Homo sapiens: one gene and its partners. The protein of the gene in region 3 interacts with the protein of the main gene of each other region in a pairwise test. Each region holds a gene or a part of one and is shown on either strand. Other genes may lie near its edges. The genes, in order: NDRG4, PTPN9, RTN3 and CDIPT.

Region 1 (4,009 bases), on a different chromosome or scaffold from region 3:
GGACACCCAGGAATAGAATGCTCTCTGGAGCAGGGCAGAGCCCTAGGGCCCACAGGGAGGCTCCGCAGGAGCACAGAGTCTGGAATCAGGGCACAGCAAGCATTTGCGAGGTGAACGGAAGAACATTGTCAGGCGCTGAGACGCGTTCTCAGGGTCCTGGGGAGAAACTCCACCAGGCAGCCCCAAGCTGGGAAGGGCACAGAGCGGGCAGGCCTCCCCCATTCTGTATGCAGGAGACTGAGGCCTAGGAGAATGGTGAGGGGATAAGCACCCCACCTGTCAGGGCTTCCTTGGGCCAGAGATCCTTCTGGGGGCCACTGCTGGGTGGGCAGGCAGGAGTGGGCTTCCAGAAGCCTCTGGCCCTGCCCCCAGCCTCTCTGTGCCTGTCCTTTGTCCCATCTCTCTGGCTCATCTCAATGCCCTTGACTCAGCGGACCACGCTCTTCACTGTGTTGTGTCTCCCCCATCCCCGCCCCCTCTCCGGCTCTGTCTTCTCTCTTAGTTGCGTACTTGAAGGACCGAAGGCTGAGTGGAGGAGCAGGTAGCCCCACGGCCCTTCCCCTGATGCATGGACGCCCAGCCTCCTCCTCCCCCGCTCCTTCCTCTGCGCAGTGTGCTGCAGCCAGGCCGCATCTTGCTGTGGTTTGGAACCTTCTTGTGTCCTGTTCAACTCAGAAACCCCACAGATTCTTGCTTTTCTGCAGGCTTGGCCTCTAGGTTGGCTGGGTTGCAGAGCAGTCTTGCTTCTAGGTTGTCATGAGCTGCGTGGCTTCCAGAGCTCTGGGGATAGGAAACAGACCCTCCTTAGAGGTAGAGCCCAGGCCTGGCCCTGCCTGAGCCACATAGGTGGCCAGGAGAGTTCCGGAGGGTAGAGTTTGCTGCCCGCAAGTCTTGCTTGTGAAACTCTGAATTAGGGAATTAGGGCACAGTCTGAATTGAGGGCAGTATGCGACCACCGCTCCGCGTCCTCCTTTACAGAAACAGTCCTACTTCTCCACTGGCATCCTCTTGAGGGAGGCACGGCTGGAAACCCAGCACCTCCCTGCACCAGCTCAGGGCTGCCTGGTCAGCTGCTGGCCGCAGCCCCCTAGGCCCACTCACTGTCGCCGGCCCTGCATGCCCCCAGCCCGACAGCTGTCGCCAGCCTCCTGACTCAGGAGGAGCCCTTTGTGCCTTCGAGGAACGGTTCGCTGGCCGCTTTGCTTGCAGCCTACTTTTCCCACCAGAGGCACCTGGCCCTGCCCGCCAGTCCTCAGGCCCATCCTGTCTCTGTCCACAGTGCCCTCAGCCAGCATGACCCGCCTGGCACGCTCCCGCACTGCATCCCTCACCAGTGCCAGCTCGGTGGATGGCAGCCGCCCACAGGCCTGCACCCACTCAGAGAGCAGCGAGGGGCTGGGCCAGGTCAACCACACCATGGAGGTGTCCTGTTGAAGCCCTTGATCCCGCTGACGACGCCCACGTCGAGGCCCCACCGCCATCCTTGCGCCGGCTCATGTTCCCTTTAGTTTATTTTTGTGAGGGCAAAGGGGAGGAAATGGGGTTCTGTTTGAAAAAAATGAGGGGATCTTAGATGCTGCAGCAGAACAGTCTCCAGGTGTTTTAAGGGGCTCAGTCCTCCTCATCCCATCTCACTCTCCGTGGTAACTTAGCCAACTTGACCCCTCTCATCCCACTCCCGGCGGCCCAGGCACAGAAGGGCAGGGCCATAGGGAGGGAGATTCGCTACGGATCCAGGCCATTCCTGGGTGAGCCCTTGGGCAGGCATGTTTGGAGATGAGAGAGGCTTCGAGAGGGTGGGTGCTGGGCCACAGGGGTGCGGGGCCAGCTCAGGCACTGGCGTGGGAGCCCTGGGAGACCCCTTCCCCCACCCTCCACCAAGCACACCTGTTTCTGTCTCATAGCACATGTGACAATCATCTGGACAACAGCCACAAGGGGGCGCTCGGACCAGGCAGCCACTTTCCTGGTGCTCTCTGGGCCCAGCTGGTGCTGTAGGGCCACGCAGGCAGGGGCGTCAAGGGGTTTCTCTGCCCAAGGAAGACAGAACATGGAGAACCGTCAGGGCAGGAACCCCACAGACTGTCCCTTCCAGCCCACACTCTGCCACCTCCTGGCCCTGTCCCAATTCTGAGCCAAGGCCTCCCCGAGGCAGAAGTTGCCTGGTCCTCTGTCCCCACAGTGACCTGACTGGGGGTGAGGGAGAAGGAGGAGAGAGCCCATGTGTGGTGTGTGTGCCCCTGAGAACTTCGTGGTGACTGCCTTTGGGAGCCCGCAGGTGGCCAGAGGCAGGGGTAGCTGAGTTCCTGGAGACCCCTTTTTTGCCCCCAGGTTCCCCAGAGGGCAACGCCATCAGTAGCAGTGTGGTGTTTCAGGCAGAGCTCTGGCCAGGCTGTGCCAGTGTGTCCCGGACGCATCACTAAGGAAGAGAGAGTTTATTTAGTCAACTGGCCCAAGGCAGCGAGGCTTCTACAGTCCCACACCCCATAGCCGCCTGGGCTGGGGCTTACTGGGGGCTGAAGGTTCTGGACATGAACAAGGGTCAGGTAGAAGAGAAAGGCTTCCCCTACACCCCAGCCTCCTGCTGTCCCCTGAAGCCCAGGACTGCGTTGTATGCTTTCCATCCACTCACCTTACCCCATAGCATCTTGCGGCCCAGAAACCAGAGCCATTTGTCTCAGACCCTAAATCAATAATCACAAACCCCAAAACGGGAGAGAGCAGTGAAAACATGCAGGGCTGTGGACGGGGGAAGGGTTGTGGCGGGTGTTCTGAGGCTGAGAGGACACCTATATGCGTATTTCCTCTACACACATCACCCCCCTTCTATAATCTTAAGCCATGACTAGCCTGGTGGCGTGTTAGTTTCTGCCCAGTTCTACCCCCTCATGTGCTTCTTCTGAATACTGAATGTGACTGTTTGAAAGCTGGTAGAATTCATCCCTCTTACTGTAGATAACACTGCAAATCTTGGAATTTTGTTTTTTGCTGTTTCCAGATGTATCTATAAATATCTATACATTATATGTGTGTGTGTGTGTGTGTGTGTGTGTGTACATCGGGTCCTCCCATGTGTGGTGTTCTTCTGGAGGTTGTCTCTTTGGTCAAGGTGAACTTTTAATGTTTATTATTTTCTTCTCCGCACAAAGTAAAGAGCCTAATTTTGTGTATTCTGGTGGCTGCTGTCATGAGATGATAAAATGTAAAACAAAACTCTAGTCAACGTAGAAAGAGTTAACTGTGCTGAAAAACTAATAAAGAACCTAAGAAGAATTCCAGTGTGGTGATGCCATGCCCATCATGGGAGGCTTTTGGAGAAACAGAATGTTTGGGCAGGGGCTGCTGGTGCTGCTTGGGTTTTGGGTTGAGGGTGCTAGGAGAGGATGGTCTCCACCCATCTTTCTATTTCCAGTACACGTCACATTATTTTACCGGTGAGATGAGAATGTCACAAACATTAAAAGCCTTATGTGCTCATTTCTGCTTATGTGCTCATTTCTCCCCTGACTCTGTGACAAAATACAGCTCTCCTCAGCCAGGCACGGTGGCTCAAGCCTGTAATCTCAGCACTTTGGGAGGCTGAGGCGGGCAGATCACTTGAGGCCAGCAGTTCGAGACCAGCCTGGGCAACATGGTGAAACCCCGTCTCTACTAAAAATACAAAAATTAGCTGAGCATGGTGGCGCGTGCCTGTAATACCAGCTACTCGGGAGGCTGAGGCAGGAGAATCGCTTGAACCTAGGAGGCAGAGGTGGTAGTGAGTGGAGATCGTGCCACTGCACTCCAGCCTGGATGACAGAGCAAGACTCTGCCTCAAAATAAAACAAAAAAACAAAATACAGCTCTCCAGAAAAAAATGCCTTAAAGACAAAACAAAACACCCCTGCCCTCCAAATCTCTTGCCTGAGTCACTACATTCCTTCAAAGATAAATGACCTACTCTTTGCCTTCTCCTAAACATACGATCATGTCTGACAGGGTTAATGATTATACTCTGCAATCTATAACC
Region 2 (7,032 bases), on a different chromosome or scaffold from region 3:
AAGTTTAAGTACTCCAAAATTACTATGTCTTTTCCAAGACAATAAAGGCATAAAAGTCAGAAAATGAAACTAAAATATACTCACAATGAGTCTTAACTTTTACCTCTTTAAAACAGTTTAGCTCCTGGCCAGGCATGGTGGCTCACGCCTGTAATCCCAGCACTTTGAGAGGCCGAGGCGGGCTGATCACCTGAGGTCAGGAGTTCAAGAGCAGCCTGGCCAATAAGCTGAAACCCCATCTCTACAAAAAATACAAAAATTAGCTGGGCGTGGTGGCGGGCACCTGTAATCCCAGCTACTTGGGAGGCTGAGGCTGGAAAATCGCTTGAACCCAGGAGGCGGAGGTTGCAGTGAGCGGAGATAGTGACAAGAGTGAAACTCCATCTCAAAAAAAAAAAAAAAAAAACAGTTCAGCTCCTTTCTAAAGGAGGGTCTTTTCAATTCATTCATAAGTACTAGGTTGGGTTCCTTAGAGAAAACCTCCAGGCCACTTAATATTCACAAAACTAAAGTCCAAGACCCTTGTGCTCAGAATTTTTTTTTTGAGATGGATTCTCGCTTTGTCACCAGGCTGGAGGGCAGTGGCGCGATCTCAGCTCACAGCAACCCCTGCCTCCCGGTTCAAGCAATTCTCCTGCCTCAGCCTCCCGAGTAGCTGGGACTACAGGTGAGCGCCACCACTCCCAGCTAATTTTTGTATCTTTACTAGAGACGGGATTTCATCATGTTGGCCAGGATGGTCTTGATCTCTTGACCTTGTGATCCACCCGCCTCGGCCTCCCAAAGTGCTGGGATTACAGGCATGAGCCACACCACACCCAACCAGAAATTTTTAATACAGCAAAATTCTCACATCCAAATGAGGTTTTACCTAATTGTTACTTACAGTATCATAAACTATCAGCAATAATGAAAATAATAAGAGTTCTTCACCTTTCCTTCCTTCTTTGTCTCTGTAGAAGACCTCAATTTAACATCATAAATCATTTGGTCCTTGACGTATGGTAACTTCCAGGGAGACAGATGACATTTAGCACAGGACATGTAAGACTGTGGGAAAAGGGAAGTTCTTGGCCGCAAGAAATGGGACAAAACCCTTGCCTTTGGGAAAAATGCCAAAGATCTCTGAAGTCCACGCTAAAGCAGTTAAATTTTTAGCTTTAAAAGATTCCATTACAAAAATCCAAACCAGACTGGGCACAGTGGCTCATGCCTGTAATCCCAACACTTTGGGAGGCCGAGGCAGGAGGATTGCTTGAGCTTAGGAGTTCGTGACCAGCCTGGGCAACATGGTAAAACCCCCCTCTACAAAAAATATAACAAATTAGTCATGTGTGGTAGCATGCCTGTAGTCCCAGGAACCCGGGAGGCGAGGTGGAAGGATCACTTGATCCTGGGAGGCTGGGAGGTCGAGGCTGCAATGAGTTATGATCATGCCACTGCATTCCAGCCTGGGTGACAGAGTAAGATCCTGTCTCCAAAAAAAAAAGCAAAAACCACACCATACAATTAGAATAGGCTTTTAAAAACTACACTATAAAAATGCAAGATAATAATTTTCTGGAATTCATAAGAACCTGTACTAGGTGATGGTCCCCAGGGTGGATATGAATATTTTTTCCCCTTGTAATTGGCTTAAGCTAACATGGTTCTAAAATTTTTCGCTATTCAAAAACGATGAGGACGGGCACGGTAGCTCATGCCTGTAATCCCAGCACTCTGGGAGACCAAGGCAGGTTGATCACCTGAGGTCAGGAGTTTGAGACCAGCCTGGCCAACATGGCGAAACCCCGTCTCTACTAAAAATACAAAAATTAGCCAGGTATGGTGGCGGGCACCTGTAATCCCAGCTACTAGGGAGGCTGAGGCAGGAGAATTGCTTGAACCCGGGAGGCGGCGGTTGCAGTGAGCCGAGATCATGCCACTGCACTCTAGTCTAGGTGACAGAACAAGACTGTCTCAAAAAGAAAAAAACAAAAAACAATGATGAATATCATAATAATGGCTAACTTTTCTGACTACTTATTATATAAGCATTGGGCTAAGTGCTCTACATGCATCTCCTTATTAATCCTCACAACATTGTAAGGTCTAAATAACATAAACTTTAAGAATTTTCAAAAAAAGAAAAAACATAAAATTAAAATAAAAAAAGAAACAAAAATAATAATAATTTTCAGGCTGGGCGTGGTGGCTCACGCCTGTACTCCCAGCATTTTGGGAGGCCAAGGTGGGTAGACTGCTTGAGCCCTGGAGTTCAAGACCAGCCTGGGCAACATAGTGACACCTTATCTCTATTATTTAAAAAATGAAATAAAATAAATTGGTGGTGGCTCACGCTTGTAATCCCAGCACTTTGGGAGGCAGAGGCAGGTGGATCACGAGGTCAGGATATAGAGACCATCATGGCCAACATGGTGAAACCCCATCTCTACTAAAATATAAAAATTGGCCAGGCATGGTGGTGCATGCCAGCAGTCCCAGCTGCTTGGGAGGCTGAGGTAGGAGAATCGCTTGAACACAGGAGGTGGAGGTTGTGCCATTGTGCTCCAGCCTGGTGACAGAGCAAGACTCCGTCTCAAAAAACTAAATAAAAAATAAAAATAAAACTATTAACAGAAACATAAGTACTTTCGAAAACTACTCTATTATCCTATCAATCATCACTGGGATATCCATGCAAAACCAAAATACCCTGAACAGCTATAATTATACAGAATTTTAATCTAGTGAGAGTTCTAGTTAAGAGTCTTGGCAGGGTGAGATGGCTCACACCTGTAATCCCAGCACTTTGGGCTGCTGAGGCACGTGGATTACCTAAGGTCAAGAGTTCAAGACCAGCATGGGCAACATGGTGAAATCCCATCTCTACTAAAAATACAAAAATAAGCCAGGCGTGGTGGCAGGTGCCTGTAATCCCAGCTACTCGGGAGGCCAAGGCATGAGAATCGCTTGAACCCAGGAGGCAAAGGTTGCAGTGAGCTGAGATCGTGCCACTGCCCACAGCCTGGGCAACAAAGCAAGACTCCGTCTCAAAACACAATAACATAATGACAATGAAGATTAATACTTATATGTAGAAATTGTCCTTCACACTGCCAAACTGCCAGCCCATTAAGAAAGGCTTTTACGGCCAGGCATGGTGGCTCATGCCTGTAATCCGAGCACTTGGGGAGGCCAAGGCAGGCTGATCACTTGAGATCAGGAGTTGGAGACCAGACTAGCCAACATGGTGAAACCCCATCTCTACTAAAAAGAAAATACAAAAATTAGTCGGGTGTGATGGTGCATGCCTGTAGTCCCAGCTACTCGAGAGGCTGAGACAGGAGAATCGCTTGAACCCAGAAGGCGGAGGTTGCAGTGGGCTGAGACTGCGCTCCAGCCTGGGCGACAGAGCGAGACTCTGTCTCAAAAAAAAAGAAAAAAAGAAAGAAAGAAAAAGAAAGGCTTTCACAAGCCTTCTTGTGCAAAAGAACAAGAAGATATAAAGAAAATAAAATTTTATTGTAGTTGTGACCACACCTTGAAATGGAGAGTTGACAACTCTGTTTTAAGGAACAAATTTTTTTCCTATAGTAATTTCATCATAATTTCTTGCACAGAGTATACAGTATGTTTCCTCTGGCAATACACAGCTGAGTAAAGGTTTTCTGTATCTTTTCATCTGTACTTTTCAAACTATATTTTAAGAAGCATTAACAAAACCAAACACATATATCAATACCAAAACCCACAAAATTAGCTATTTTATACCCACTTAGGCACCTAAGTAAATTGGCTAATGGCTTCATGGGAAGTAATGTAGTGTAAAAGAGGAAACACTGGCAGTGAAGGCAGAAAACCTAGACCTGGGTGGAAATCATGGCTACATCACTTGTTAACTATGTGACCTTGGGCAATTTCCTTCTCTCAGTCTGAGTTTTCTTATTTGCAAAGTGAGGGTAGTAATTCCAATCTTGGGAGGGACGATTAATTGCATGTGAAATGCCCACCACAGAGCCTGACTGAAAGCAGGAGTTTAGAAAAGATACTGTTACGATTGTTATTCATATAAGCTCCTTAAAAGCAAAAACATCATATTTGTCCTCGTAGCCCAATTGTAGGCTTTATAATTATTGAGGAGCTGAAAAACAAGAAACACCAAAGTTACAAATGAGGATTTGTATCCGTTCAACACATGCCTAGACAGAAAATGAGACTAAGTAATCATGACTTTCAAAAACTATATCAATGCATACACAGCATATAAATCAAAGTATATATTGCCATTTGATGGGGAAAAAAATCAAAATATGTAATGTGCTTATTTTTAAGCCACTCTGAAAGAAGATGATGCTGCCTGTATACAAATCAAGAGTACAACTACTCTTCATTCATTCTGCAAGTATTTCCGTAAGTGCCAGTCATTATGTCAGTCATTATGCTAGGCAATGTGCATATGATGGGGAGCAAAAGCGAAAATAATCCCAACCCTCATAGAGCTTGCTTGCAGTCATGTAATCACACAAATAAGTGTTAACTTGTGATAAGTGATGTGAATGACAGGTAAATGGTGCTCTGAGAACCTATTAGGTTAGAATCTAATCTAACTGAAATCAAGGAAGGCCTTCCAAGGAGGTGAAACCTGAGAGCTGAAGGATGAAGAGGAGGTTAACAAAGGGGGGTGTTTCCAGATGGAGGAAAGCAGCTCCTGCAAAGACCCTGTAAGCAGGAGGAAACAAGGAAAGAAGGCAGGACTATAAGGCCAGTGTGCATGGAGCAGAGACAAGTGTGAGAACTAGCTAGGGCCTAGGCTGCTCAAGGGCCTAGATATATAGCCTACATTCAAAAGTTGCAATTTGATCTCAAGAGCAATGACAAGGCCTGTAATCCTAAGGCTTTGGGAGGCTGAGGCAGGAGGACGGCTTGAACCCAGGAGGTTGAGGCTGTAATGAGCCGTGATTACACCACTGGACTCCAGCCTGGGTGACAAAGTGAGATCCTGTCTCCACAAAAAAAAAAAAAAAAGGCAACCAGAAGCCACTAAAGAGTTTTATGAATGCTTCTTTGCGGGGCAGGCAGGCTGAGGGGAAGATGAAATCAGATTTTCAACAGGACTCTGGCTTCTGGATTCTGGAATATGGATGGACCAGGTGGGAAACAAAAGTCCTGTCAGGATAGGATAGTAGCTTCGAATAGGGTGATGGCAGTGATGGTGGAAGGAAGCCAATGAATTCAAGAGATATTCAGGAAAATCTAACACTGTATTGTACACAAGGGCAGAGGGACAGCAGTGTCCAAGACTTCTGGGTTTCTGATTCATATGACTGTACAGAAGGAGATACCACTCAGGAGGTATTCTGCTTCAGAAATATTTTTAAGGAGCCAGGCGCGGTGGCTCACGCCTGTAATCCCAGCACTTTGGGAGGCTGAGGTGGGTGAATTGCCTGAGGTCAGGAGTTCGAGACCAGCCTAGCTAATGTAGTGAAACCCCATCTCTACTAAAAATACAAAAACTTAGCTGGGTGTGGTGGCGGGCGCCTGTAATCCCAGCTACTAGGGTGGCTGAAGCAAGAGAATTGCTCGAACCCGGGAGGCAGAGGTTGCAATGAGCCAAGATCACGCCATTGCATTCCAGCCTGGGCAACAAGAGCAAAACTCTGTCTCAAAAAAAAAAAAAAAAAAAGAAAGAAAGAAAAGAAATATCTTTTTTTTTTTTTTTTTTTGAGACAGAGGAGACGGAGTCTCGCTCTGTCGGCGGGATCTCGGCTCACTGCAAGCTCCGCCTCCCGGGTTCACGCCATTCTCCTGCCTCAGCCTCCCGAGTAGCTGGGACTACAGGCGCCCGCCACGACGCCCGGCTAATTTTTTGTATTTTTAGTAGAGGCGGGGTTTCACTGTGTTAGCCAGGATGGTCTCGATCTCCTGACCTCATGATCCGCCCGCCTCTGCCTCCCAAAGTGCTGGGATTACAGGCGTGAGCCACCGCGCCCGGCCGAAAAGAAATATCTTTAAGGCTGTTCACACAGGCCAAAAAGGGCCTAACTGCACTACACTTTTGCATGAAAATGTGTAAACCGAATTTGATCCCCTACTTTAAATAAGGCTCTAAAAGATTTTTTGCTATTTACAGAAATCAAACTGACTCTCAAAAGTACAAGGATTTTCCTACACTGAAGAAATTTCAAAGATTCTGCCACAAGCTTCTAAATCAACTCCAAATAAATGTTAAATTGGTTTGAGCAATAGGGCAGCATTACGGAGTGAATGTGTCAGTTCCCATGAGGACCACTTTGATAAGGCTAACACTTATGTACTGCTGTTTAATTTTAATATTTTAAATAAATCTTAAGAGTACCCTTGGCTGGGCGCGGTGGTTCACGCCTGTAATCCCAGCACTTTGGGAGGCCAAGGCGGGTGGATCATGAGGTCAGGAGATCGAGACCATCCTGGCTAACATGGGGAAACCCCGTCTCTACTAAAAATATGAAAAATTAGCCAGGCGTGGTGGCGGGCGCCTGTAGTCCCAGCTACTCGGGAGGCTGAGACAGAAGAATGGCATGAACCCAGGAGGTGGAGCTTGCAGTGAGCCGAGATTGCGCCACTGCACTCCAGCCTGGGCAACAGAGCAAGACTCCATCTCAAAAAAAAAAAAAAAAAAAAAAAGAGTACTCTTGGCTGGGCACAGCGGCCCAGGCCTGTAATCCCAGCATTTTGGGAGGCCAAGGCGGGTGGATCACGAGGTCAAGAAATCGAGACCATCCTCCAACATGGTGAAACCCCGTCTCTAGTAAAAATACAAAACTTAGCTGGGCATGGTGGCACGCACGCCTGAAGTCACAGCTACTTGGGAGGCTGAGGCAGGAGAATCGCTTGAATCAGGGAGGCAGAGTTTGCAGTGAGCCGAGATCACAACGCTACACTTCAGCCTGGCAACAGAGCAAGACTCAGTTAAAAAACAAAAGGGTACTTCTGGCTGTGTGCAGTGGCTCACACCTGTGATCCCAACACTTTGGGAGGCCAAGGCGGGTGGATCACCTGAGGCCAGGAGTA
Region 3 (7,416 bases):
CAGGAGTTTGAGACCAGCCTGGCCAACATGGCAAAACCCCATCTCTACCAAAGATATAAAAATTAACCAGGTGTGGGCCGTGTGTGGTGGCTCATGCCTGTATTCCCAGCATTTTGGGAGGCCGAGGTGGGCGGATCACGAGGTCAGGAGATCAAGACCATCCTGGCTAACACTGTGAAACCCTGTTTCTACTAAAAATACAAAAAATTAGCCGGGCATGGTGGTGGGCACCTGTAGTCCCAGCTACTGGGAAGCTGAGGCAGGAGAATGGCATGAACCTGGGAGATGGAGGTTGCAGTGAGCTGAGATCGCACCACTGCACTCCAGCCTGGGCGACAAAGCGAGACTCCGTCTCAAAAAAAAAACCAAAAAAAAAAAAAAAAAAAAAAAAACCAAAAGAAAATTAACCACGCGTGGTGGCACACGCCTGTAATTCCAGCTACTCGGGTGGCTGAAGCATGAGAATCATTTGAACCCCGGAGATGGAGGTTGCAGTGAGCCAAGATGGCTCCACTGCACTCCAGTCTGTGACAGAGCAAGACCTTGTCTAAAAAAAAAAAAAAAAAAAAAAAAAAAAAGAAAGAAAAGAAAAGAGAAAGAAATAACGAGTGGAAACCGCGGCATTTAATATTATTCGGAAAATGTAATGCAAACTCATGTACTTGGAACAGCACTTCACGATATAATTCTACTACTTTCGACAAAACACATAATTTCAGCACCTTTTCCACTATTATAAAGAGAAGTGCAAAAAATACACAATAAATAGATAAAAATTGTGACAAGGGTAGATGACATAAAAAAAGGTAAGCCAAACAGAAATATGTTATGTCATTAAATTCGTATTGCCAATTTAGGTGCCAATTAGGTTGTGGTATGCCTGTGTGTCTGTGAACAAAATACTCTTATTTCATTGGCCTACTAGGCCAGTTCTTCCATAAGTGCATTAAAAGAATGAAAAAGTTGAATCTCAAATGATTTCACCATTTAGTTATAAACAAACTAGGACTAAATTTTCAAATCTGCTAACTAAAATGACTCTTCAACACTTAACATCTGTCTTATCTTGAGCTTACAGAGCCAAATTTCTAAAACTTAGGTCTGAATCAAAAATGAAAAATCAAGAAAACCCAAAAGGTAAGTACAAAAGGGCCTACCAAACAGTAAGCAATGACAAGTGATTAAAGCAAAAAGATCAAGTTGCTAAGTTATAAGGAAGTCGCTGTTCATCTGGACCTTAGCCCAGAACACAAAAATTTGGAGAAAAGGCTGGTGGTTTAAAGGAGACAGGGTTCTAAATTTGCTGCCTCATTCTTTTATCTGCAAAAGCTTCCTGATACTGCCTGTTTCTACTGAAATGGCCATAACCACACTGAAAAAATCCAACAGGGCTCCAAAGCTCTCAGACAGGTGAAAATTCACTGCTAGAAAAACACGTAGAGAATAATACATTTAAGGTTAAGATCAGAAATTTTTTCTTTAGAACCCAAGATTCTGCCAAAGGAGACAACGAAGCATTAAAAAAAAATGATCAAAATCCTTTAACATAACTAAATAGAGAGCAAAATTATCTCTACTCTCCCGAATTTACGGCCCTGCCTTTGACAAAAGGCATTTTTTTTCCCTTCAAAGACTCCGTTCCTTTGAGAACTACCACCTGCCCATGGTGGTTTTTTTTTCCCCCCTTAAGAAGGCATCTGCACTGCAGATTTCTGCATAAGGGGAGCTTGCCAGGCAGCTCTTACCAGCAGGCAGACGCGTATACAATGCAAACTAAAGGAGGTCTGCAGCTTCGTTCTTAGTCTTTCACAGAGATGGGAGAAGGGGACTCAACCAGCCCTTGCTTTGTCTGAATGTTCTCCCCCTCCCCCTTTCTGCAATAAACACCCCCCTTTGTTATACTTCGATCAATAGTAGCCCACAGAAAACATGAAATCAAAACATGTTGATAGCTTAGCATGACTCTATTTTCTAGAATATAAGCGACTGATTGCGTGTCCCCACCCCCACGCAGCGCCAGGGAAGAGCAGGCTGTTGCAGATGCAGCCACGGATCCATCTTGGACCATTAGCAGCTCCCTCCCAAATCTTCCCTGAGCTATTCTCATCACGCCTCCTTCTACCTCGGAGCCTCAGAAAAATCCGGCATTCATGGAGTCTAGCCGAAAACAGTAAAAACAAAACAAACAAACAAAAAAAACAGGCTACAATGCTTCCATTAAACTTCCTCATCCTTCCCATGGGCAGCCAAAAATATTTTGGAGGACTATCATGAATGCTTGATTATGTCAACACCTGTCTGCAAACCTGCAATGCAACCCTTTCACCACCATCCCCTCAAAAATAGTAACAAATTGTTTCTCCCACCACCCACCTGCCCGTATCCTTTCAATCTCTCTAATCCTCACTAAATCACCCAGGTTCACCATATGCATCGAGCAACTCTCCATTTTATCCCACGAGCTGGTATTTTTCCCCACCTGCCCAGTCTTGGCGTTAACGCCCACTGGACTATCTCCCCGCCCCCAACCTGTTTTCCTCACACCCCGCTATTTCCTCACCGCCTGCACAACCTTACGTTCCCCTTCCCCTTTGCCCATTTTCCAAACGCTCGTCCCCGGGGGGCTGAAGCCGTCAGTAGTCGAGGGTAATTCGTCCTCCTCCCGCCTCGCCTCCTAATCCCCCCAGCCCCCAGGCTCCCGCTCGCCCTCTTTCCCAGGGCGGGGGCTCCCCGCGCGCCTTACCCGCACAGGAGGAGCTGCAGCTCTTCGTCCCCAGGGCGGGGCAGGCTCCTGGGCTCCCGCCGCCGCCGGGCGCGGACGGCTCGGCTCCGAAGGACGACGAGGAGATGGAATGGGACTGAGTGGCCGCCGACGGCTCCGCCATGGCTACGCGAGCGAGGGTGGGAGAAGGGTGAAAAGAGATACGGGGCGGGAGAGAGGGAGGGGAAATAGAATAATCCGGCAACTGGCTCGCTCAAGTCCCTTTACTCCGCCTGCTCCGAGGACAGACTCCGACAGACTGACTGACTCAGCCGAGCGCAGCTAGAGGGCGGGAGCGCGAGCGCGCATGCGCACAAAGGGCCCCAAGCGGGTGCCAAAGCGCGCAGCGGCGCAGGGCGCAGGCGCAAGAACCGCTCCTCTGCGCTCTTGCAGGGAAGGAGGGGCAAAGCCGGCCTCACGCGGCGCCTCGCGCGCCGAGGGTTGGGGAGCGTCCCTTGGGGACCAGACGCAAAAGGCGTATCCAAGCCCCAATCCCCGCCCACGACTGCGGCTAATCGTGGAGCTGCGGGATAGTATTCCCTCCTGCCTCTTTATGTGAATGTTTTAGGGTCGGCAGATTATGTATTTTAACGGTAGAAATGTCTTTGGGCTTCCATTATGGAAACTCTCTTTCCCGTACATTCCAGAGCCTATATCTTTTGTTTGATGCATTCCCACCTGTGACTCCAATAAAAACTGAAAACCAGAGTGTAGAGTAGGCCCACTCTGCAAGGTGCTTTGTGAATCTCACTGGCTGTGTCGTAATATCTCCTCACCGAGAGGCAGAGATGGCACGGCCCCCCATTTGGTAGGTGGAGAAAGATGCTATACAGAATGAAAAACGATTACTCATTCCAATCACATTGCAATGCAGTCGCAGAACCTGCTTCGTATTCTTATCTCGTTACTGTTGCCAGAGAAGGGTCCACCTTGGGTCTTAAGGTTCTCTTTTCCTCCGAATAGACTGTCAGATAGAGACGACATATTTTAGAGAGGGAAAAAAAATGCTGAGCTGATGAAGAAGAGCCAGGAGATAAGAAAATGTTGGCTGTGATTATGGGGGATGATAAAATTAGATATTAAAAATTCAGAATAAGGCCGCAGTCAGTGGCAGAGGCCCGTAGTCTCTGCTACGGCAGAGAAGGGAGGATCACTTGAGCCCAGGAGTTGGAGTCCAGCCTGGGCCACACAGCGAGAACCTTCCTGCCTTAAAAAAAAAAAAAAAAGTAAAAAAAATCAGAATAAGGCACAAAATACACATAATTGAATTTTATTCATAGACTAAAAGAGGTCCTTAGCAGAACATGTATTTAAAACCAGATTTCTAGCCTATATTGGATTTTGTTCATTTTTTGCTTTTCCTGGGCTGGATTGCCAAATTCGAAGCCTTCTCCCTACATCTGGTCAAAATATTGGAAAGGTGCATAGTCTTTGTTAAAGGAGGACTGTTGGCTGGGCGCGGTGGCTCACACCTGTAATCCCAGCACTTTGGGAGGCCGAGGCAGGTGGATCATCTGATGTCAGGAGTTCAAGAACAGCCTGGCCAATGTGGTGAAACCCTGTCTCTACTAAAAATACAAAAATTAGCTGGGGGTAGTGGCGGGCGCCTGTAATCCCAACTACTCGGGAGGCTGAGGCAGGAGAATTGCTTGAACTCGGGAGGCAGAGGTTGCAGTGAGCAGAGATCTCACCATTGCACTCCAGCTTGGGTGAAAGAGCAAATCTCCGTCAAATAAAAAAAAAAAAAGGAGGACTGTATCCTGGAAATAATAAAAATCAAGGCTGTCGACTGTTACTGCTAAAGCAGCAATCGATGACCCAAAGTACAATTGCAGGATCAGCAGATCCTGTAAAGATGCAGCCTCATGAAGCGGGAGGTGGTCAGCCAAGCTGCCACTGAGGGGAAAGGCGATCTGACCAGTGGAAATCTTCTAGAACAAGCTGTGTACTACATCTGCCCTTGAGTTTTTAAGGTCAGGTAAAGCCCCAGGGGGTGGGAGGATGACTCCTGGCCTTTGCAATGCTCTGAAAAAGGCATAGAAAAATATTTCCCAAAATAACTTTGTGGCTAATACCTTACCCTGGCACTTACTGCATCAGCTGATAATGCAGCAAACTGTCTCTTGGATGGCAAAGGGAAATAATAGCAGATCGGATAACCAAGCCAGTTATCTACCCATTCTGATACGTGCATATGTTTTTTTAAAAATCGCATTATTAGGGGAGCTGTTTTCTTCTTCCTTCCTTCTTTCTTGTCTATTAAACGCTCTGCTCCTTAAAACAAAACAAACAAACAAAAATCTACATTATTAAGTGCTAGATAAGGAAATAAATGATGCTGGTAGCTAACTCTGACAGCACTTGCTACAATCTGGAGACTCCAGCTGGAAGGAAGTCCATTTTCCTAATATGTAGCAGCAGAGAAGTTAAAAAGCAAGATATGCACGTGGTCTTACTGGTCTTTTCAGACCCTTCAGACATTTTTTTTTTTGAGATGGAGTCTTGCTCTATTGCCCAGGCTGGAGTGCAGTAGTGCCATCTTGGCTCACTGCAACCTCCGCCTCCCGGGTTCAAGCAGTTCTGGTTCAGCCTCCTGAGTAGCTGGGATTACAGGCACATGCCTCCATGTCCGGCTAATTTTTGTATTTTTAGTAGAGGCGGGGTTTCACCATGTTGGCCAGGGTGGTCTTGAACTCCTGACCTCGGGTGATCCTCCTGCCTCAGTTTCCCACACCTGGGATTATAGGCGTGAGCCACTGTGCCCGGCCAGTTCTATGAATGTGTATTGATCATGTGCTGTGTGTATAACACAATTCTGGGAACTTTGAAGAGACCTCCAAAATATGTTAGTCTTGTCTTCAATGAGCTTACAAGCTAGTTAGGACAAAAAACATACTCACATAAAGTTAAATAATATAAATTAAATAGCAACTAAAAACAACCCCAAACACCATAAAACCATAGTGCTTTGATTAGATGGCAAGTAAATTAAATGAATTTAAAAGAGAGGGGCCAGGCGCAGTGGCTCACGCCTGTAATCCCAGCACTTTGGGAGGGCAAGGTAGGCGGATCACCTGAGGTCAAAAGTTTGAGACTAGTCTGGCCAACATGGAGAAACCCCATCTCTACTGAAAATACAAAATTACCCAGGCATAGTGGTGTGTACCTGTAATCCCAGCTACTCGGGAGGCTGAGGCACGAGAATCACCTGAGCCTGGGAGGCAGAGGTTGCAATGAGCCAAGATCATGCCACTGCACTCCAGCCTGGGCAACACAGTGAGACTCCACCTCAAACAAAAACAAAAACAAAAACAAAAACAACGAGGGGAAGGAATTACCATGAAGTTGTAGTGGCTTAGGGAGGTTTTTTTTTTTTTTCTGTCACCCAGGCTGGAGTGCAGTGGTGCGATCTCGGCTCACTGCAACCTCTGCCTCCCAGGTTTAAGTGATTCTCCTGCCTCAGCCTCCCGAGTAGCTGGGACTACAGGTGCGTGCCACCGTGCCTGGCTAATTTTTTGTATTTTTAGTAGAGACGGGGTTTCACTGTGTTAGCCAGGATGGTCTCGATGTCCTGACCTCGTGATCTGCCTGCCTCGGCCTCCCAAAGTGCTGGGATTACAGGCGTGAGCCACTGCGCCCAGCCAGGAGGTTTTGTGAAGATGCTCAAAGTTAGATAGGTGTTTGGAATTGTAAGGAAGTCATTAAAAGCAGAAAAGGATGGTATGAAGCAAATACAGGGGTTGCTTTTGTGAATGTATACAAAAAAAGTACTCTTCTGGGCAGATGAATCACAAAAAAGAACCTCTTTCTCCCAGCCCCACCCATGATACAGTTCCATGCTGATTTGGCTAGCAGAACCTCACCTAGATTTGATCCCCTCTTGCCCCTTGTCTCCACAAGCTGCCTTGGTGTAACACTCAGACTGTACAGCCATATGTGGTGGCTAAAGGCTCAGACGTGAGCGTGTATAAGGTGTCTTGGGTGTTGGTTAGACCAAATTGGCTGGAGCTGAAGGCTTGAATTAGGACAGGAGGGAAGATATAGGGATAACATCTAAAATGAGGAAGATATGTTGGGGCCAGTTTTTGGAGAAGCAGTAGTATTGAACCAAAGAACTGAGGCTTTGTCTTAAGAATAATGGGGATTGAGTGGAAGTTTTTGGTGGGAAATGGCTCAGCTGGGATTTTTTTTTTCCTTTTTTTTGTCCAAGATGGGATTTTTTTTTTTTTTGAGATGGAGTCTCACTCTGTCACCCAGGCTGGAGTGCAGTGGCATGATCTCAGCTGACTGCACCCTCCACCTCCTGGGTTCAAGTGATTCTTCTGCCTCAGCTTCCCGAGTAGCTGGGACTACAGGCCCATGCCACCATGCCTGGCTAATTTTTATATTTTTAGTAGAGACGAGGTTTCACCATGTTGGCTAGGCTGGTCTTGTACTCCTGACCTCGTGATCTGCCTGCCTCAGCCTCCCAAAGTCCTGGGATTACAGGCGTGAGCCACCGCGCCCGGCCCAAGATGGAATTTTTAAAGTGCTCCCTGGCTGTCATGGTGGCTCACCTCTGTAATCCCTACACTTTGAGAGGCCAAGGCAGGAGGATGGCTTGGGCCCAAGAGTTCAAGACCAGCCTGGACAATATAGCGAGACCTCATCTTGAA
Region 4 (7,025 bases), on a different chromosome or scaffold from region 3:
TGGTGTGATCTCGGCTCACTGCAACCTCCAACTCCTGGGTTCAAGCGATTCTCCTGCCTCAGCCTCCTGAGTAGCTGGGATTAGAGGTGCATACCACCAACCCAGCTAATTTTTGTATTTTTAGTAGAGACAGGGTTTCCCCATGTTGGCCAGGCTGGTCTCAAACTCCTGACCTCAGGTGATCTGCCCGCCTGGGCCTCCCAAAGTGCTGAGATTACAGGTGTGAGCCACCGCGCCTGACCTAACGTTTGTATTTTTAGTTAAGACAAGGTTTCACTATGTTGGCCAGGCTGATCTTGAACTCCTGACCTCATGATCCACCCGCCTTGGCCTCCCAAAGTGCTGGGATTACAGGTATGAGCCACCGCACCCAGCTCCTCCTACTATTTCTTTCTTTCTTTTCTTTTTTTTAAATTTTTCTTTTTGAGACAGGGTCTTGCACTGTCACTCAGGCTGGAATGCGGTGGCATGAACATGGTTCACTGCAGCCTCAACCTCCTAGGCTCAAGTGATCCTCTGGCCTCCGCCTCTCAAGTAGCTGAGACCACAGGTTCGTGCCACCACACCTGGCTAATTTTTTTAACTTTTTATAGAGATGGGGTCTCTCTATGTTGCCCAGGCTATTCTTGAACTCCTGGGCTCAAGCGATCCTCCCACCTCCCAAGTAACTGGGATCACAGGCACATGCCATCATGCCTGGGGTATCACCATGTTGCCCAGGCTGGTCTCAAACTCCTGGACGCAAGCGATCCTCCTGCTTCAGCTTCCCAAAGTGCTGGGATTACAGGCATAAGCGACCACACCCAGCCAGGAAAGTGTGTAAGGCTCTAAACAAGGCACATAAAGTCTCTTGAGTCCCCTCTTACCTTGCCTGTAGACTCCAGCTGCTAAACTGCTTCTCCCTGCCCTAAATACACACAGATGCTCACACTGGCTCTGCGAAGACTGCTCTTTGCCTTTGTTCATGCAACCCCAACTGCTTGAAAGACTCCTACTAACCTCTTTTTTTTTTAACCTGGAAAATTATTTCTTTTTTTTTTTGAGATGGTCTCACTGTCGCCCAGGCTGGAGTGCAGTGGTATGATCTCAGCTCACTGCAACCTCTGTCACCATGTTGACCAGGCTGGTCTCAAACTCCTGCCCTGAAGTGATCAGCCCACCTCAGCCTCCCAAAAATGCTGGGATTACAGGTGTGAGCCACTGCACCTGGTGGAAAATTATTTCTTTAGGTGCTACCTCCTTCAAGAAGCTCCAAAGCCTGTAATCCCAACACTATGGGAGGCCAAGGAGGGCGGATCATGAGGTCAGGAGATCAAGACCATCCTGGCTAACACGGTGAAACCCCGTCTCTACTAAAAATACAAAAAAATTAGTCGGGTGTGGTGGCGGGTGCCTGTAGTCCCAGCTACTTGGGAGGCTGAGGCAGGAGAATGGCGTGAACCCAGGAGGTGGAGCTTGCAGTGAGCTGAGATCACACCACTGCACTCCAGCCTGGGCAACAGAGCAAGACTCCGTCTCAAAAAAAAAAAGAAGAAGCTCCATGGCTCCTGTCCTTCCTGTCCAATTGAAGCTGGGATAAGAGTACTATCCCACTGTGTCCATTTCTATTATGGAAACTTATCCAGACTGTATTATAATTGGCCATTTCCTTGTCTGTCCCCACACTGAACTGTGAACTCTTCAAGGGCTGAGACTGTACCATTCATTTCAGTGTCCCAAGCTCCTAAGACAGGGACCAACATATAGTGCAAACTCAAAAGGTTTGGTTAATATCGAATAGCCTTGGCAGCCATGGACCCTGCATGTACCTTTTCACCAGGAGTTGGCAGGAGGTATGCCTTGCTGCAGGTACGGTTTCTGTCCGAGCAGGAGATGGTGGAAGAGAGGGGAGAGGGCTGAGAATTCAGAATTTGAGGATCAGGGCAGAATAGAATGGAAGTGCACGGTTCAAAAATTCCCCCACCCTGCTGGGATATTGTGAAACCCTCACTCTCTCCCCTCCAGGTTCCTCACCTCTCTCCCAGGACAAAGAGCATCTCCCTTGAAGCCTCACTCACCAGGTGTCTGTGCCTCAGGTCTTGGTGAAGAATGCTGGAAGTAGAGGACCTAGTCAGAGAAAGGACTATCCCCGTGGCCAGAAGAGATGCGGCCAGGGCAGACGGGGCTAAGGGGATTCTCGGCCAGCAGTGAGGAGTGGGTACTGGGTTAGCGGGTGAGAGGGGCATTTCACAGGTCCTAGGGCTGGCTGTGAGATGGATGAGATGGGCACAGACTCCTGGAGAGTTCAGCTAGGGGTGGGAGGGGTCAGGGACTGTAACCAGGCATAGTGGGGGCAGCGGTTCTCTAGACACGGTGGTCCTGAGGCAGGGGGTTACCGCGTTTGGATATCTGAGTCGCTTGGTCTTGTGACTGCTTTTTTTTGATGGGCACAGGGTTCAAGTGGCAGCAAGCAGTGCACAAAGCCTCCTCCATGAGTTCTGCACTGATCTGGGACAGGTATTCCTCAGAACGAGATAACGAAGCCTGGGAAAGGAAAAGCCGGAGGGGTTCAGCCTGGGAGCTCCCACATGGGAGTGCTGGCTGTGGGAGTTCCCAGGCTGGGGCCTGTGGGTCCAAGGAGCTTGCTCCTGAAGGACTGGGCCTTGAGATTTAGCTAGAAAGCTCTGGACCTGGGGGAGGGGGGTTTGGTGGGGGTTTAGAGTCAGGGCCTAGTGCTGAGAGCTATGAGTCGGGGCTTCAGGACTCAGGGTTGAGGCTAGAGTCTCAGGGCCCGTGGCTCAGACCTGGCACGGGGTGCCTCTGCCTGGGAGGCTTTCACTTCATTACATTCCCACCTCTAGGGTTCCCTGCAGTGCTCACCGGACCTCCTCTCAAGGAGGGTGCAGCTTGAGATGGCCAGCTGCTCTTCTTCTCCCCCTCATTCCCCATCGGAGTGGACGCCATCCCCCTGGGAACAGTCGAAGCCTGAGTTGACCTGAGAAACCAGCCCGCTTTCCCCCAGAACCCAGTCCACCACCATTCCCCGGGCCCAGGTTTAAACAAGGCCTTTAGAGGAAACATCCCGCTGCCTCATTCCCTCTCACAAGAAAAAATAATAATAATAATAAAGGTTGCTTTATATCTTCGGGAGTGAGAGGGAACTCCCGCAACCCCCTACCCCTCACCCCTTCGCCTGGTGGGCCTCTCCTTCCTTCTTCCCTCCCAAGCACCTTCCCAAGCCGAGGCAGCCGACTTGACGCCCCAGACCTGGCAGATGGGTGGAAACCTTGGGCTACTCGGCAAAAGGAGAGACGTGGAGGCCTAAGGACCTCTGGTATAGGTCGTGGGGGATGGAGAATGGGAGATGGGGAGGAAGGCTGGAAAAGGGGGAGCCGGCTCCGTGTCGCTACCGGACGCTATAAAACCCTTGGAGTCTGCAGAGGTTCCGCAGCCTCGTTGCTAGGAGATCAGGGGTTCTAGAACTAAAGACAGAGGAATTTCCTAGCGCGCCCCGTTTGCTCCTCCAGCCTCCCCTCCGTACCCCTCCAGGTGCCTCCTTGAGGGCAGTGACCCCAAGCGCCAGACGCTTGAGAAGCTTGGGAGGATGACGTAGGGTGGAGCCTGCGACCTAATCCTCCCATCACAAGGGGCACGCGAAAAGCAACCCATCTGCAGGGCGCTCTGGAGCCTCTCTAGCCGCCTAGAGCCTGCGAGAGCAAAGGCGGCTGGAGACTTAGGGGGCGGGGAGTAAAGTGAGGACTGCACCAAATCTCCTGGCCTCTTGGGGACGCAAAGACTCAGGAGGAGGAATTTTATCGCCTTATCTTTGCCTCCAGGAAGTCATACCCTCCACAAAAGGAAAGCAGAGATTTTTATTCGGTCTTCTCTTTTACCCTTTCCTTTTCCGTTTCTAACTTTGCTTGACGTTAATGGTTCCTTCCTCCCTCTCCTCCTCTGCGCTTTGGTACGAGCCAAGGGAGAGGGGCGGAGGGAGGAAAAGGGAAAGGAAGCCGACAGGCCTTAAAGGGGCCGCAACTATTTTTTTAAGCCACTTTTTCCTCTCTCCAATTTTGCAACGACGGGCGCGGAGGAGGAGGTTCCCGGAAGCCACGCGCAGCTGGAGCAGCGGCGACCGCAGCTGGAGGCCCGGAGCGCCTGCGGGGCTGGCAGAGGCGAGGGAGGTTGCGGGTAGGAAGGGCGGACTGCGCGCGCCCCCTGCGTCCCGCGCACCTCGGGGCCGGTCCATGCTCCCGACGGCTGCGGGCTTCAGCATCTGGGGCCAGGTTGGGGCGGCGGGGTCCAGGGCGCAGGTGGTGCGGCCGATGCGCCGGGCCGGAGGCTGAGGCCGCGCTGCGGGGCTGGGACAGCACTGGCATCTCCAGAGCAGGCCCGGGGCAGCAAGGGAGGCGCCGCGATGCCAGACGAAAATATCTTCCTGTTCGTGCCCAACCTCATCGGTGAGTGCTGCCCACGGCCCCGGGCCGAACGAGAGGGCGAGGGGCCTTGGCGGGCTCCCTGATCCTGCCCTGTCTCCCCGCGTCCCGTTCCAAGGTTATGCCCGGATTGTCTTCGCCATCATTTCTTTCTACTTCATGCCCTGCTGCCCCCTCACGGCCTCCTCCTTCTACCTGCTCAGCGGCCTGCTGGACGCTTTCGATGGACACGCTGCTCGCGCTCTTAATCAAGGTGACAGACACCCCTCTCAGCCAGCCTTGGGGTTCAACAATCCCCTCCTCCCTTCCCCTGCCTCCTCGGGACCTCAGAGTCAGAGGGCTGTCATTCCCATCTCTGGAAAAAGCAGAACAGGATGGCCTGGGGCTTTTTGTTTTGTGTTTTGTTTTTTTGTTTTTGAGACAGGGTCTCGCTCTGTCACTTAGGCTGGAGTGCAGTGGCGCGATCATGGCTCACTGCAGCCCCCATCTTCTGGGCTCAAGTAATCCTCCCACCTCAGCCTCCTGACTAGCTGGGACTACAGGAGCGTGCCACCACACCCGGCTAATTTTTAAATTTTTGTAGAGACTGGGTCTTGCAGTGTCGCCCAGATTGGTCCCCAGCTCCTAGCCTCAAGCGATCCTCCTGCCTTGCTCCCAAAGTGCCGCGCCCAGCAAGAATGGACTGATTTTGTAGCAAAAGGAATTTAAGCTAGCTCTTGAGAACTCACTGCTTGTGAGAGGTGTGGATTAGCAAGACATGACATGGCGGTGGCGCTGCTGGAGGTCTCTCTGAATACAAGTCCATTCAGGCCAGGGGCGGTGGCTCACGCCTGTAATCCCAGCACTTTGGGAGGCCGAGGTGGGTGGATCACGAGTTCAGGAGTTCGAGACCAGCCTGGCCAACATGGTGAAACCCTGTCTCTACTAAAAATACAAAAATTAGCGGGCTTGGTGACGCGTGCCTGTAATCCCAGCTACTCGGGAGGCTAAGGCAGGAGAATTGCTTGAACCCGGGAGGCGGAGGTTGCAGTGAGCCAAGATTGCGCCATTGCACTCCAGCCTGGGCGACAGAGCAAGACTCTGTCTCGGAAAAAAAAAAACAAAAAACAAAAAACAGTGTATTCAACAGGTGTTTACTGGAGGCCTACTGTGTGCCCTGCATAAGCAGTTGGGGTTCCAGAAGGCATGCTTAGAGGGAGGATGGAGAGGGAAGGGTGATGGCTTCTGGAGGGTTGACTAATTTTTTAATCTGTTCTCCAGACCCAACTGTAAGGCTTCCCCTGAGGCATCAAGTCTCTATCTAGCCCTGGAGTCTTGGTTCTGGGGTTGATGAGTTGCAGACATAGCTTTCCTCTCCTCCTACCCTGTTCCCTCCACTCTCATGCCTTTCTCAGTTCATGCCATGGTGACCTTTGCCCACTGACCTCACACACAGCCTGTTTTCTAGCCTGCGTTCCTCCCCAGGCAGGCGGACACTTCCAGTCTTCGTTTACACCCTGCGTCAGAGTGATAAACCAAATATGGGCACCTGTCCTGCATCCACTGTGCCATAACAGCCCTTGCCCACCTAATCTTCCAGGAACCCGGTTTGGGGCCATGCTGGACATGCTGACGGACCGCTGCTCCACCATGTGCCTGTTGGTCAACCTGGCCCTGCTGTACCCTGGAGCCACGCTGTTCTTCCAAATCAGCATGAGTTTGGATGTGGCCAGTCACTGGCTGCACCTCCACAGGTCTGCTGCGATTCTGGGGGCCTGGGCCACTTGGAGACATTACAGTGGGGTGGGCTGAGCCTAGACGGAAGGGTGTCTGGGATGGCACTAGGCATCCTGGAAGGGCTCCTTTTTAGCTCTGCTTTGTAGAAAGACCCCAGGCAAACCTGCCTCTCTTTAAAGCTTCAGTCATGTTTACAGTTGCATTAAGCAATTCTTAGGACTCTTCTGGCTGGGTATTCTAGGATTCCATATAGGTGACAGCTTATAGGAAGGGGCATGGGAGCTTTCAAATGTGGCATTTGAATCCTGACTCTGCCCCCAAATAGGTAACTGTGGCTTTCGGCAGGATACTGGTCCTTAGCCGTGCCCAGTTTTCCATCTGTACAATAGGTGTTAACATGAGGATTGGATGCATGGTAGTGGTCATGAAACCTTGTGGGTTCCCCTGTTTTCTCCCCAAGTTCTGTGGTCCGAGGCAGTGAGAGTCACAAGATGATCGACTTGTCCGGGAATCCGGTGCTTCGGATCTACTACACCTCGAGGGTAAGCATTTCCTGCACACCCCACCCCTCAGGCTCTTGGCTGTGGGAAGCCCTGGGCTGAATCCTGGTCCTAGCCTAGGAGAAGGCGAGGGCGCAGAGCAGGGCCTGCCCAGTCACTCCAGGAGGAGGGCCCGTAAGCTGAGGCGTGGAGGAGGAGGATTGGTGGGGAAGGCCTGTGTGAATTACTCCAGGGAACAAGTGGGAATGAGGCCTGCAAAGAGAAGGGACTGAAAGCGGGAAGGGAGATAAGCCAGAGAGGTCTGCAGGGCTGGAGTGTGGACTTGATTCCAGGAACACAGGCAGCCTCTGGAAGGATTTTTAAAAAGATAATGGCTGGGCATGGTGGCTCATGCCTG

What was found.
Region 1: the proteins of RTN3 (region 3) and NDRG4 interact in binary tests that used the Homo sapiens proteins (3 or more experiments, as listed by UniProt).
Region 2: the proteins of RTN3 (region 3) and PTPN9 interact in binary tests that used the Homo sapiens proteins (3 or more experiments, as listed by UniProt).
Region 4: the proteins of RTN3 (region 3) and CDIPT interact in binary tests that used the Homo sapiens proteins (3 or more experiments, as listed by UniProt).

What each region holds. Positions count from the first base shown.
Region 1 is NC_000016.10:58,510,143-58,514,151, forward strand, and holds the end of NDRG4 (protein NDRG4), read left to right. Parts: intron 1-502; coding exon 503-541; intron 542-1,279; coding exon 1,280-1,434; 3' UTR 1,435-3,477; downstream 3,478-4,009. UniProt on the Homo sapiens protein: Contributes to the maintenance of intracerebral BDNF levels within the normal range, which is necessary for the preservation of spatial learning and the resistance to neuronal cell death caused by ischemic stress.
Region 2 is NC_000015.10:75,569,297-75,576,328, forward strand, and holds part of PTPN9 (tyrosine-protein phosphatase non-receptor type 9), read right to left. Parts: intron 1-7,032. UniProt on the Homo sapiens protein: Protein-tyrosine phosphatase that could participate in the transfer of hydrophobic ligands or in functions of the Golgi apparatus.
Region 3 is NC_000011.10:63,677,106-63,684,521, reverse strand, and holds the start of RTN3 (reticulon-3), read right to left. Parts: upstream 3,023-7,416; 5' UTR 2,886-3,022; coding exon 2,744-2,885; intron 1-2,743. UniProt on the Homo sapiens protein: May be involved in membrane trafficking in the early secretory pathway. Inhibits BACE1 activity and amyloid precursor protein processing. May induce caspase-8 cascade and apoptosis.
Region 4 is NC_000016.10:29,860,226-29,867,250, reverse strand, and holds the start of CDIPT (CDP-diacylglycerol--inositol 3-phosphatidyltransferase), read left to right. Parts: upstream 1-4,024; 5' UTR 4,025-4,393; coding exon 4,394-4,436; intron 4,437-4,530; coding exon 4,531-4,665; intron 4,666-5,991; coding exon 5,992-6,145; intron 6,146-6,588; coding exon 6,589-6,670; intron 6,671-7,025. UniProt on the Homo sapiens protein: Catalyzes the biosynthesis of phosphatidylinositol (PtdIns) as well as PtdIns:inositol exchange reaction. May thus act to reduce an excessive cellular PtdIns content.